2 linked regions of the Homo sapiens genome follow. The protein of the gene in region 1 interacts with the protein of each later gene in a pairwise test. Each region holds a gene or a part of one and is shown on either strand. Other genes may lie near its edges.

Region 1 (7,157 bases):
GTATGTCTAGAGGGAGAGCAAGCACAAAATATAAGAAGAAGAAACAGTGAGAGCTGACTTTAAGGAGGCAAGAAGAGAAGCAGGCAAACCAGGTAGGAGGCAACTGTAAAAATGTGGGTGAAAGATGGTGAGTGACTGAGGGCAGCGTGATAGCAGTGAAGTGAGGAGTGGCGTGCGTGATCCTGGATATACTGTGAAGGTAGCAACAATACGGTCTGTGGAAGAACTGAATGTGGAGTAGAACCAAAAAAAGATGATTAGGGATACCTTCCATCAACTGGAAGAATGATGCTGCTATTTATTGACAACGGTAAGACTAGAGAAGGCGCAAGTTTGAGGGGAAAGATGAGTTCAGTTTTGGTAAGATTAAGTGTGAGAGGCCTACTAGATGGTCAAATGGAAATGTTGAGTGTCAGTTGGATATGCAAGTCAAGTCAGGGAAGACAGGACTGGAGATGGATATTTGAAAACTGCCAGTGTATAGATGATATTTAAATCATGAGATGGGATGAGATCATCTAGGCTCCAGGGAGTCCATGCAGATAGACAGATCTGAGGATTCAGCCCCAGGACACTCTAATGTGAAAGGTCTGGCAGATGAGGAGAAATCAGCAAAGGAGTGTGAACAGGAGACTTTAGTTTTCTAAACTAAAGGAAAGCAATGAGAGAATACTGTCCTGGAAACCAAGCGAAAGAAGTATTAGTAGGAGGAGATGGTTGTCAATTGTGTTGAATCTTCGATAGGCTGGGAAAAGACCAATGGATAGAGACTTCGAAAGCCAGGCGTTGTGGACACAAAAGCCTGGTTGTAAAGGATTCAAAACAGCATGAAAGTCTACGAACTGAAGGTAGCAAATCTTAAATCTGAAATGGGTGCACCTGTTTTATTTTTAAAAAGACAGCATAGAGCTACATTAAGAGCATTATGCTGTTCTAGGATGATATACAGAACATATACAGGAATATGTGGGAAAATCGACAAACTCTAGAGCTAGAAAGGTCCCTGGAGACTACTGTGCCCACCTCACTTGCTCCTTAAGTGAGAAATGGGAAGCTCAGAGAGACCAAGGCACTTGTCCAAAGTTCCCTGGCTAGTTAACAGTGGAGCTGAAGCTGCAATCCAGGTGGTCTGATTCCCAGTTCAGTGCTCTTCACACTGTACCGATTTGTTGGCCTTCTTTCACTGAATTTGAGTTTTGTGAATTAGCAAATGAGTGTAATAAAATCAAGGACTCTGTGCTATGAAGTGTATTTTGTTCATTTACTTTGACAAGGGTAGTTCAGCTTCAATTATTTATGTAACTTGATAGTATATGCAGGAGAATGCCCTGTGGTGTATTTGGGAAAAGTAATGAATTTCTTCTAAATCAGCCCTCCATTTACTTCCCTGCAATTAAATCTTTGAGAAGAAGTGGGACAAAGCTGTTGGGGTTTCAGGACAGAGGGAGAATGACAGGGTGCCACCAGAATTAGCCAGCTTTAACAGCCAGATCCCCAGATAACTGTACCATTATTCTTGCTTTCTGCTTTTATAATTCCTGCTTCAGTGCCACACTAATACATTACCTCTAAATTTTGGTACTATGTAACCTGATGAGGTTTTAAGGAATAGTATACTAAAGAAAGATATTACATTACTATGTATTCTTCCAAAGCCAGAGTCTGACATAAGCCCGTAATTTCACTTTTGTACGAATCTATGAAATGACTGCAGGGCTCTGTGTTACTCAGGCTCCAACCACACTTGATGCCCTTCTCATGGGGTCTGACATATTACACTAGGCCAAGAAGGCTCAAATCTACTTGTAACTTATTTTTGTTCCCATCTTCTCCTTTTAACCTGACTTTGCTTCCTGCTTGCATAAGTGTTTTCCTCTTGTGGAAATTCTTTAGAAAGTGCTATGAGCCATCTTTAAGAATGAGAGTGCTATGGATTGAATTGTGTCCGTCCTCAAATTCATCTGTTGAAGCCCTAACCCCTAATGTGATGGCATTTGGAGATGGGGCCTTAGGAGGGTAATTAGGGTTAGATGAACTCATAAGGGAGGGGCCCTCATGATGAGATTAATGGCTTTGTGAGAAGAGGAAGAGATTGCTCTCTCCACCCTGTGAAGACACAGCAAGGTGCCCTTCACAAACTGAGAAGAAAGACCTTACCAGGAACCGAATCTGCTGGCACCTTTATCTTGGACCTCCCATCCCCAAGAGAAATAAATGTCTGCTGTTTAAGCCACCCAGTCTAAGGTATTTTGTTATTGCAGTGTGACCAAACTAAGACAGCGAGGTTCCTAAACTACAGCTTGGTTGCTAAGACAATCCATTTACTGGTTCTGTAACACTTCTTTCCAGGTGGATCTCCTTCCAAATCTCCTTAAAAAAGAAATACGTAAGGGTATTACAGGTGCTGCTGCTACTGCTGCCACTGCCACTGCTGCCTTTGCCAGATGGTGAACTTTTACAAGACTCTATGCTAATATGAAATTTAATTATAAAAATTTAAAAAACTTCTAAATATACTCTGCAGAATACTAACCTAGATAATAAGTCACCCAAACCAGTCATTTCACTTAAAGAAACCAATTCCCTAAGTCTCCAAAGTCTGGGAATTCTTTGTTTTGTAAACATGTTTACAAGTACAGCCACGTTGTTCTAAATGGAAATGACTATAGTATTTAATACTGGGATTGTCCTTTCTTGCAACTGGATTTATGCCTCATAATGATTATCTTCTAGACACAGAAATAGCATTTCTGTAACTCAAAATTGTTACCGGAGGCATTTAGTAGAATCTTGGTTTAAAAATATAATGATTTTTCATCTTTATTCTCCCCCCTTCAAAAGGTTTCACTGCTCCTGATGTTTAACGTTATGCAAAGACGTGTTTCTGCCAATGAATATCGCCTTACGGTTATGCTTCTGCAAATAGCCTGCTGTGAGCTGATAAAGGGATTAATGCAGCCAAAATTCTTAATCTGTAAAATTACAAATTAAATTCTCATATTAAAAATACCACCCTGAGGTATTTTTTGTGGTTTTAATTCCCCTCTGGTGTTCTGCATACTTTGTGCTTGTTAATGACGGGGACAAGGCTGTCTCCCTTGGCAGTCTGCTGCCGAGTGATAATGTGTAGGCATTTACTCACTGATAGAAACTGGATTTAACCACTGGCTGATAAACTAAGTGGCAAGTGGGTAATAAGTCCATATTAACAGAAAAGTACTACTACAGAATTCAGAATTCATAGACCATCAAAATCCTGGCTTAAACTCAATCTTCAAGTCAGATGGGATTGAGATGTCACCAAGGAGGAGTGATACCAAGTTACAAGTTACACTAAATGGGAAAACAAACCATATGTTTGAGTGTGATGAGCCGTAAACTAGTGAGCCTATTTACAGCATTTTTGTTTTCAGTATAGGAAAATTATTTTCCCATAGGGATTTAATTTTTAATTTAAAAAAAATTGAGGATAGCTGTTGTAATAGTCAGTGAGTAGACTTTAGAAAGGGCAGAGTGTTGAGTAAACATGGGCTGGAAATACGTGAAATGTTAAGGAGGATTTGCTAAGCATTAAGGGGAGTAGTAGATTAATATATCTATAGTGACTTTAGGGTTAAAAAAAAGTAATGAGAAATAAATGTGGGATATCAAAAAAAGATTTAGGATAGAAATACCCAAGAGGAGTTGCACTTAGAACTTAGTTCCAAAATAAAGGGTTATTGCCATCAAGGAGAATCCAATATTATGATGGATGAAAGAAGTCTAAAATCCAAGATAATGAAGAAATAATCATATGTCTACTGTAAGTGATGTATACCAAGGATTAATAAACACATTATAAATATTAATGTATATATGCAGTATGTTCATTTTTAAGGCAATCAGAAAAGAGTATAGAAGAAATATCTCTAATTGTTCTTTGGAAAGAACATATCACCATTGAACAAAAATATTCTGACGGCAATAGTTTTTACAAAATTTCACAAGAATTCTGTTTCACACTCTGGAAGAAATCTGAGATCCTCCCAGCCATAAATCCTCCCCCAAATATTTAAAATGTAATTTTAAAAGGCTGTATAAATATGTAGACTTTTATAAAAACAAAACAAAACCCACCCAGGAATGTGTTTTAAAAGATTCAGAGAAGAGCTGTCTGTACAAATACCAAGAGCATTTGCAGTTAAAATGAATTACATGTCTTCAGTCTGTACATGTCAATTCAGTGCATTAGCCAATTGCCAACTCTGCTCCTCAGCTCGCTGCATAGCAGCCCTTTTTAAGGTTATTGTTACAACCAAGATGGTCTCTGAGAATCAAACAGAAATGAATCATCGGCTCCTCTGTGTACTGCAGCCAGTTAAAAAGTACTGTATGCATAAAGCACTAAATATGTAAATCATATTTTCCTTTTCCTTTATGACTGTTCAGATCATTTTTTTGGACACACACATAATCAAATACAAAGATGCACAGCTGCAGACTGCAGAGCAGAGATAGCAAAAAAGGAATCCATTTTCTTCCTGTGTCTGGTAAGCTAGCAAATGAATGGCAGGATTCCACTAAATATATATACACATGGCCCCCCTTCCCCTGTTCTCTCTCTCTCTCTCTCTCTCTCCACACATACACACACACACACACACACACACCTGTAATGCACATACAAACATACATTATCTTATGTTTGTGGACACACAAATATGTGAATCTCTGCATACACGTTACATACAGATGCCAAAATAAAATGATGTGTCTGCTTGGACTGGATGTTGTGGATTTGTCATACTCACTGTCGGTGAGTTCCCATAGCCGTGGCGGCAGGTCACTAAAATACTCGTGGCTCAAGGCAGCCTGTGCCGACAGTCTGTTCTTTGGGGAACATTGTAGGAGCTTGGAGGCCAGGTCCTCTGCATGGTTCACATAGCTGAGCCTAAAAACATGAGCAAAAAAGAGAGGTCAGACCAAACAAGAAAATCCACTAAATAAGACATAAAGCTTACCTAATTTTTCTGGATTTCAATTTATTCCTGGCTAGAAAAACAAATTACCTGCTGAAATAAACAGAAGCAAAATGCATGTTGGTTCTCAGAGTATTTGTTACTTCAAACTTACTTTTACTCTAGGTATAACAGTATAATTGATTTAAAATATTTCTACTATAGGCAAAGGATTGATACTTTCCGAAAAGATAAAACTAGGTCCAGAGGTAGAAAATTTCAGAAGACAACATATCAAATAATTATTAGAATTTGTTAATAGAATCTATGTACTATACCCACATCTGGATATATTTATAGAAAATTAATAACAAATACTAAAGAATTAAAATAAAACTGCTATTAAATTCTCCAGTTACTAAAGTTTCTTTTCCTCTAAGAATTTATATTTTCTTGCATTGAATATGAATTAACATTACTGAAACAGTGCCCTGTCAAATATCAACTATCATAATATTAATAAACAGGTTAGCAAAGGGGATGTGCTTAGATGATACGGGGCTGAATCAATTCAAGATGACCTTTAAAACAACAGTAGATAGAAAATATGTGTCTCAAGATTACAGAAAAAGGCGTAATAATAAAGTCTTTCATGTGGTATAAGCTTTCAAATGGGTAGCAGCACTTCTCAGTCCAGCTCAGCCTTGCTTTTCATGGAACCTCTATTTCTCTACTCAGAGCAATCAAGCCTGGATAATTAATATAATAATGATAATAAAAGTATTCCTAATAATGGCTAGCATTTCTGGATAGTTGAACATGCGTCAGGCACTTTCCTAGGCACTTTTAACACTCGTATTTATTATAGTCTGAGAAGGTAACAATTGCTATTTTGTAGTGGTGGAAGCCAAGTAGGAGTCAGAGATGGCAGTGGATCACTTGGGTAGCAAGTTGAGAGGAGATTCCAATCCATCCAGAACTTCTTGACTCTAAAGTGGTTTGCATATGCCATGCTCTCTTTCTCTCACAGGTTATTTTAAAGGCATTTCCCAATGGATTCTCCAGTTTCTGAAACCCGGTGCAATATATACAGTGACTCTCAGAGGCAGCCAGAAGTGGGTGAGGGAGAGCTGCACCTTCCAGTAGGTATTTCTTTAAAAATCCTTGAAGCTACTCAAGACACAATTAGCCAACAAACATATTTCCTCAATGACCAACAATCTCCTCCTTCCCCTCCTCAACCAATTCTTTAGTATTTATTTCAAATTGTTGGGGATGGGGGTATGAAGAGAAGATGAGGTAATGGATTTGGGTAGAGAAGGAAAAAGGGGAAAAGCAAAGAAAAATATTACACAAAGATCCAAACTAAGAGACTTTCTCTCTACATCTTGTTATGTGAAGGCCTCACAAATGGGTTCAATGTGTGGCTGCTGCAATGGCTGTTCACGAAAAAAATGGATCAATGGATTGGTTTTAACTGTCTCTCCCTGGAAGAGAGAAATTTGTCCACAGGGAACGAAAGCATTCTCAAAATTCTTCACAGTTTTTTCCCCTTTAAGAGGGCACAGGGCCATTCATATTATTCCTTCCTCTTCCCAAGACTTTATCACTAGTACAACTTTTCATTCATATTTTTAAAAAATCAAACGCAAAGTTTGAGATAGGCTTCATGGTTAAAAGTTATATTGAATGTACAGTTCATAGTTAATTATGGTGAACAGTATGTTCATATCAATTTTATATAGTTTTGATAAAATAGAACAACCAGATTAGGACTAGATCTGAGTTTCAGGCTTAATACTGCTATCATTTTCCTAAATTCAGACAAATAACTATTATTAAAAGAAAAAAAGGAATATTATTAATCGCCCAAACTGTATGTTGTTACATTGCATGTAAATACAAGAAGAGAAAGGTGATTGCGATAGTTGGTGCACAAGTACTTAACTCAGAAGTCAAGAGTATAAAAAACATGAAATACAAAGCAAGACATACTATTTTTGATCTTGGTTTTCTCATCTATTGAAAAATAGTGATGAACCACATTATGTCTGCAGTCCCTCCAGTTCCAAGAAGCCATGAATCACATCTGAAGCATGGTTTCATTATCTCGAAGAATTATAAACACTTATAGTTGTATCTCTGTTTCTGCAGTAAATTGTTGACTATATTTAAATACAGTATATGCCTCATATAAGGAATTCATCAATATAAGATAGT
Region 2 (2,921 bases), on another chromosome or scaffold:
TCTGTGGGAAAAGCCATAGTTTTTCCAGAACTGAACCACCTTCAATCAAGGTTGAAGGAAATGTGTTTGCAGTTGCGATGCTAAAAAACCCATAGGAGGTTTTATCAATGTGTCTGGTACAGACTAGGAAGCTCAAAAGCATAGTTTTTTTCTCTATGCCCAGTACCCACGGTAGGGATCAGGAATAGGGAGAGGCAGAACCCATGGCTCCTGGAAAGCTTGGGGTGAGTTCTTGCAGCTGAACAGGGGAGATGGCACAGCCCCAGCCTCCAAAGCACCTTTGGGTATGAGCTAGCATGCAGCTGGGGGATCAAGACCCGGTTTCAGAGGGGGACCATGTGATGTTCACTACATAACTACCTGAGGATTTGACAGATAGCCAAGATCTGGTTTAGTATTTCTTTCAGAAGCATTTTCTGTGGCAGGCCACAGGAAGACAACTCCACTAAGGTCATGAATGCCCAGTCCCCATGGGTAAGAAAACAAAAGCTACTATGACATGATGTAGGGCTTTGGCCTCTTTATTTTCTTTTTACAGTTTATTCCACAAGTAAAAGACTTCACAAAGCACTATGGCTCTGACTATTCCCCGAATGAGCTGCTGAGGATGGAGCTGGCTATTCTGGACAGACTGCACTGGGACCTCTATATTGGGACGCCGCTGGACTTCTTGACTATAGTGAGTAAGGAGGTGTTTACAGAGTCTACCCTAAACTCGTTTGTGCCTTTGGAACAGCTGTTTACAACATGGGATGGCAAAGCACAGGCGTGCACACGCCCTTGCACATGCACCACAGTGAGGTGACGCACAAGGCTCATGACATACGGAAGAGTGAAAAGGTATCTTAAATCCAACACAGTTCCACCAGACTCCCACTTCTAAAGGACATTAAATTAACTTTACAAAGATTTTTAGACGGCACTATTATGGTGAGTTTCTCTTTTAAATACACACTGCAAAAATATTTAACTTTCCATTCTATGAATACTGTACATAAATATCTGTCTGCTTTTGCTACACTTTACACACATTCACTTAGCTGTCTTTATTCACCTACACACAATCCTTATTGAAGCTTTAGACCATATTGATCTGGCACTTAAAAAAATATCATACATTAGTTTGTATTTGTTTTAGTTGGGGGAATGATGGTCATCCTTAAGGATATGATTCTGTTAGTAAGGCAAAATTATGCAATGTGGAAATCTCATGGGGTTTTGGTTTGTTATGAAGCATGAAGATTAAATTACTAAAGACTGTTTCATTACGAAAACTGGCCACCGTTGCCAAGTTGCAGAGTTTCGTCTTATGATAAGCAGATACAAGTAACTTTTCTGCTACCTTGGTCTTGAATAGTATGTTTCTATTTTTCAGAATGGAAACATTGTCATCTAGGTACTTTCCGCTCATAACGATGATGTCACAAAGCAGACTTTTTTTTTTTTTTGGTCCCGGAGTGGAAGCTCAGCTTGGCCACAGGATGGGCATTAAGCCTCAAGCCCCTTACGGAGCCATGGATAGGAATGAAAAGGGTTGGGCAACATTTGATGTTCCCTGATGGAAATTTAAATTGTTTGCACTTTTGATCATTGATATAGGAAAAGTATGGCGTTTTCTGTTCTAACATTAAAAACCATGGTCTCCAGTTCCATGCCCTGGTGGTCCTGAGCTGGCCCCATGTGTTGGAGCTGCTGCCTCAGAGGAATCCTTCCCTCCACGTCGCATCCCTGACCAGGCAGCTGCAGCACTGTATGGCGGGCCACCAGCTGCTGCAGTTCAAGGGCTCCACACTGGCCTTGGTCATCATCACCTTAGAGCTGGAGAGGCTCATGCCCGGCTGGTGTGCTCCTATATCTGATCTGCTAAAGAAAGCACAGGTAGACATCAACTTTGCCCCAGACCAGGCTCTGTGTTTTGCCCCTTTAGCTGACACACTCTGACCCCAAAGGGGTACCCTTTGCCCTTGTAGCCTCTGGAAAATGTTCTGGCCATAACCCTGGAAAGAGTCTGCCCAAAGGCTAGGCTTTCCACACTTGGTCACGCTCTATGCACTTGAGATGGGACATGTGTTCCCTTCACTGGACCAATGGGGGTGGTCTCTGAGAGTGAGAGAATCTTTATCTCAATGGGAGCCCTTGTAGCCAAGAGGACTGTGGGGAGTCAGGGGTATGTCTGGCTTAGGAGGAAGCAACCCTGAGCTTAATACTGAGGAGCATAAATTCTAAACTCCTTCACCTCTCCTTTGTATGAGTGTGTGGTACCAGGTACAGGGGTACCATGAGGCAAGCATTGTGGGGGCACAAGGAGGAGAGGGGTGTGTCAGAATCCCTCAGAACAGATAGGTTAGGATGGAATGCATAGTTAGACTAATGACAACTTTACTGAGGTTGGAAATGGATGTCCCTGAGATGGTAGGATTAGTGGTCCTTAGTTGGGTGGTTGGACCTTCCTGAACTTGCTTCATGCTAACATTTTGGCACTCAATTGCCAATTTCTTAGAATGTATGATGGTTCTGCTTGAAGATGGCCACTCTATTCTAATACAGGTTGGTGATATGCAGTACAGCTGCTGCAAGGAACTTGTAATGCAGCAACTGAGAAGTCTTCAGTCATCCTCCTGCACAGACAACTTTGTGTCACCTGCCAACTAGCCCCTCTGCCTCCACCCCGGGGCTTTCAGAGCATAGTGTGAAACCTCCTTGCTTGGACTACCATGAGTTCTTTGGCTTGTTATGAATCCTGTAAAAAGGGAAGGTGGCTCTGGAAGAGCAACTGAGAAAAAGTTCCCAACTGAGCCCTTGGAAAAAAAATAAAGGGGAGAGGGGAAAGGCAGGCTGAGGTCAGTAGAGGTCAGGGTGGTCTGATAGACTATGACCCTGTCTTCCCTTTTTCTCCTCTGGGCCTGAAGCCAGGGAGTATG

The links. Proteins that work in one complex are often made in the same cells at the same time.
Region 2: the proteins of CDK14 (region 1) and SEPTIN8 interact in a two-hybrid assay, tested with the Homo sapiens proteins (one study listed by BioGRID).

Annotation. Positions count from the first base shown.
Region 1 is NC_000007.14:91,110,315-91,117,471, reverse strand, and holds part of CDK14 (cyclin-dependent kinase 14), read right to left. Parts: intron 4,931-7,157; coding exon 4,791-4,930; intron 1-4,790. UniProt on the Homo sapiens protein: Serine/threonine-protein kinase involved in the control of the eukaryotic cell cycle, whose activity is controlled by an associated cyclin.
Region 2 is NC_000005.10:132,750,319-132,753,239, forward strand, and holds the end of SEPTIN8 (septin-8), read right to left. Parts: exon of another isoform or gene 2,653-2,921; coding exon of another isoform or gene 2,548-2,652; exon of another isoform or gene 1,879-2,547; coding exon of another isoform or gene 1,864-1,878; coding exon 1,698-1,863; coding exon of another isoform or gene 1,600-1,697; 3' UTR 806-1,599; coding exon of another isoform or gene 539-805; 3' UTR 501-538; downstream 1-500. Other genes in the region: CCNI2 (cyclin-I2), read left to right, coding at 539-679, 1,600-1,878, 2,548-2,652. UniProt on the Homo sapiens protein: Filament-forming cytoskeletal GTPase. May play a role in platelet secretion. Seems to participate in the process of SNARE complex formation in synaptic vesicles.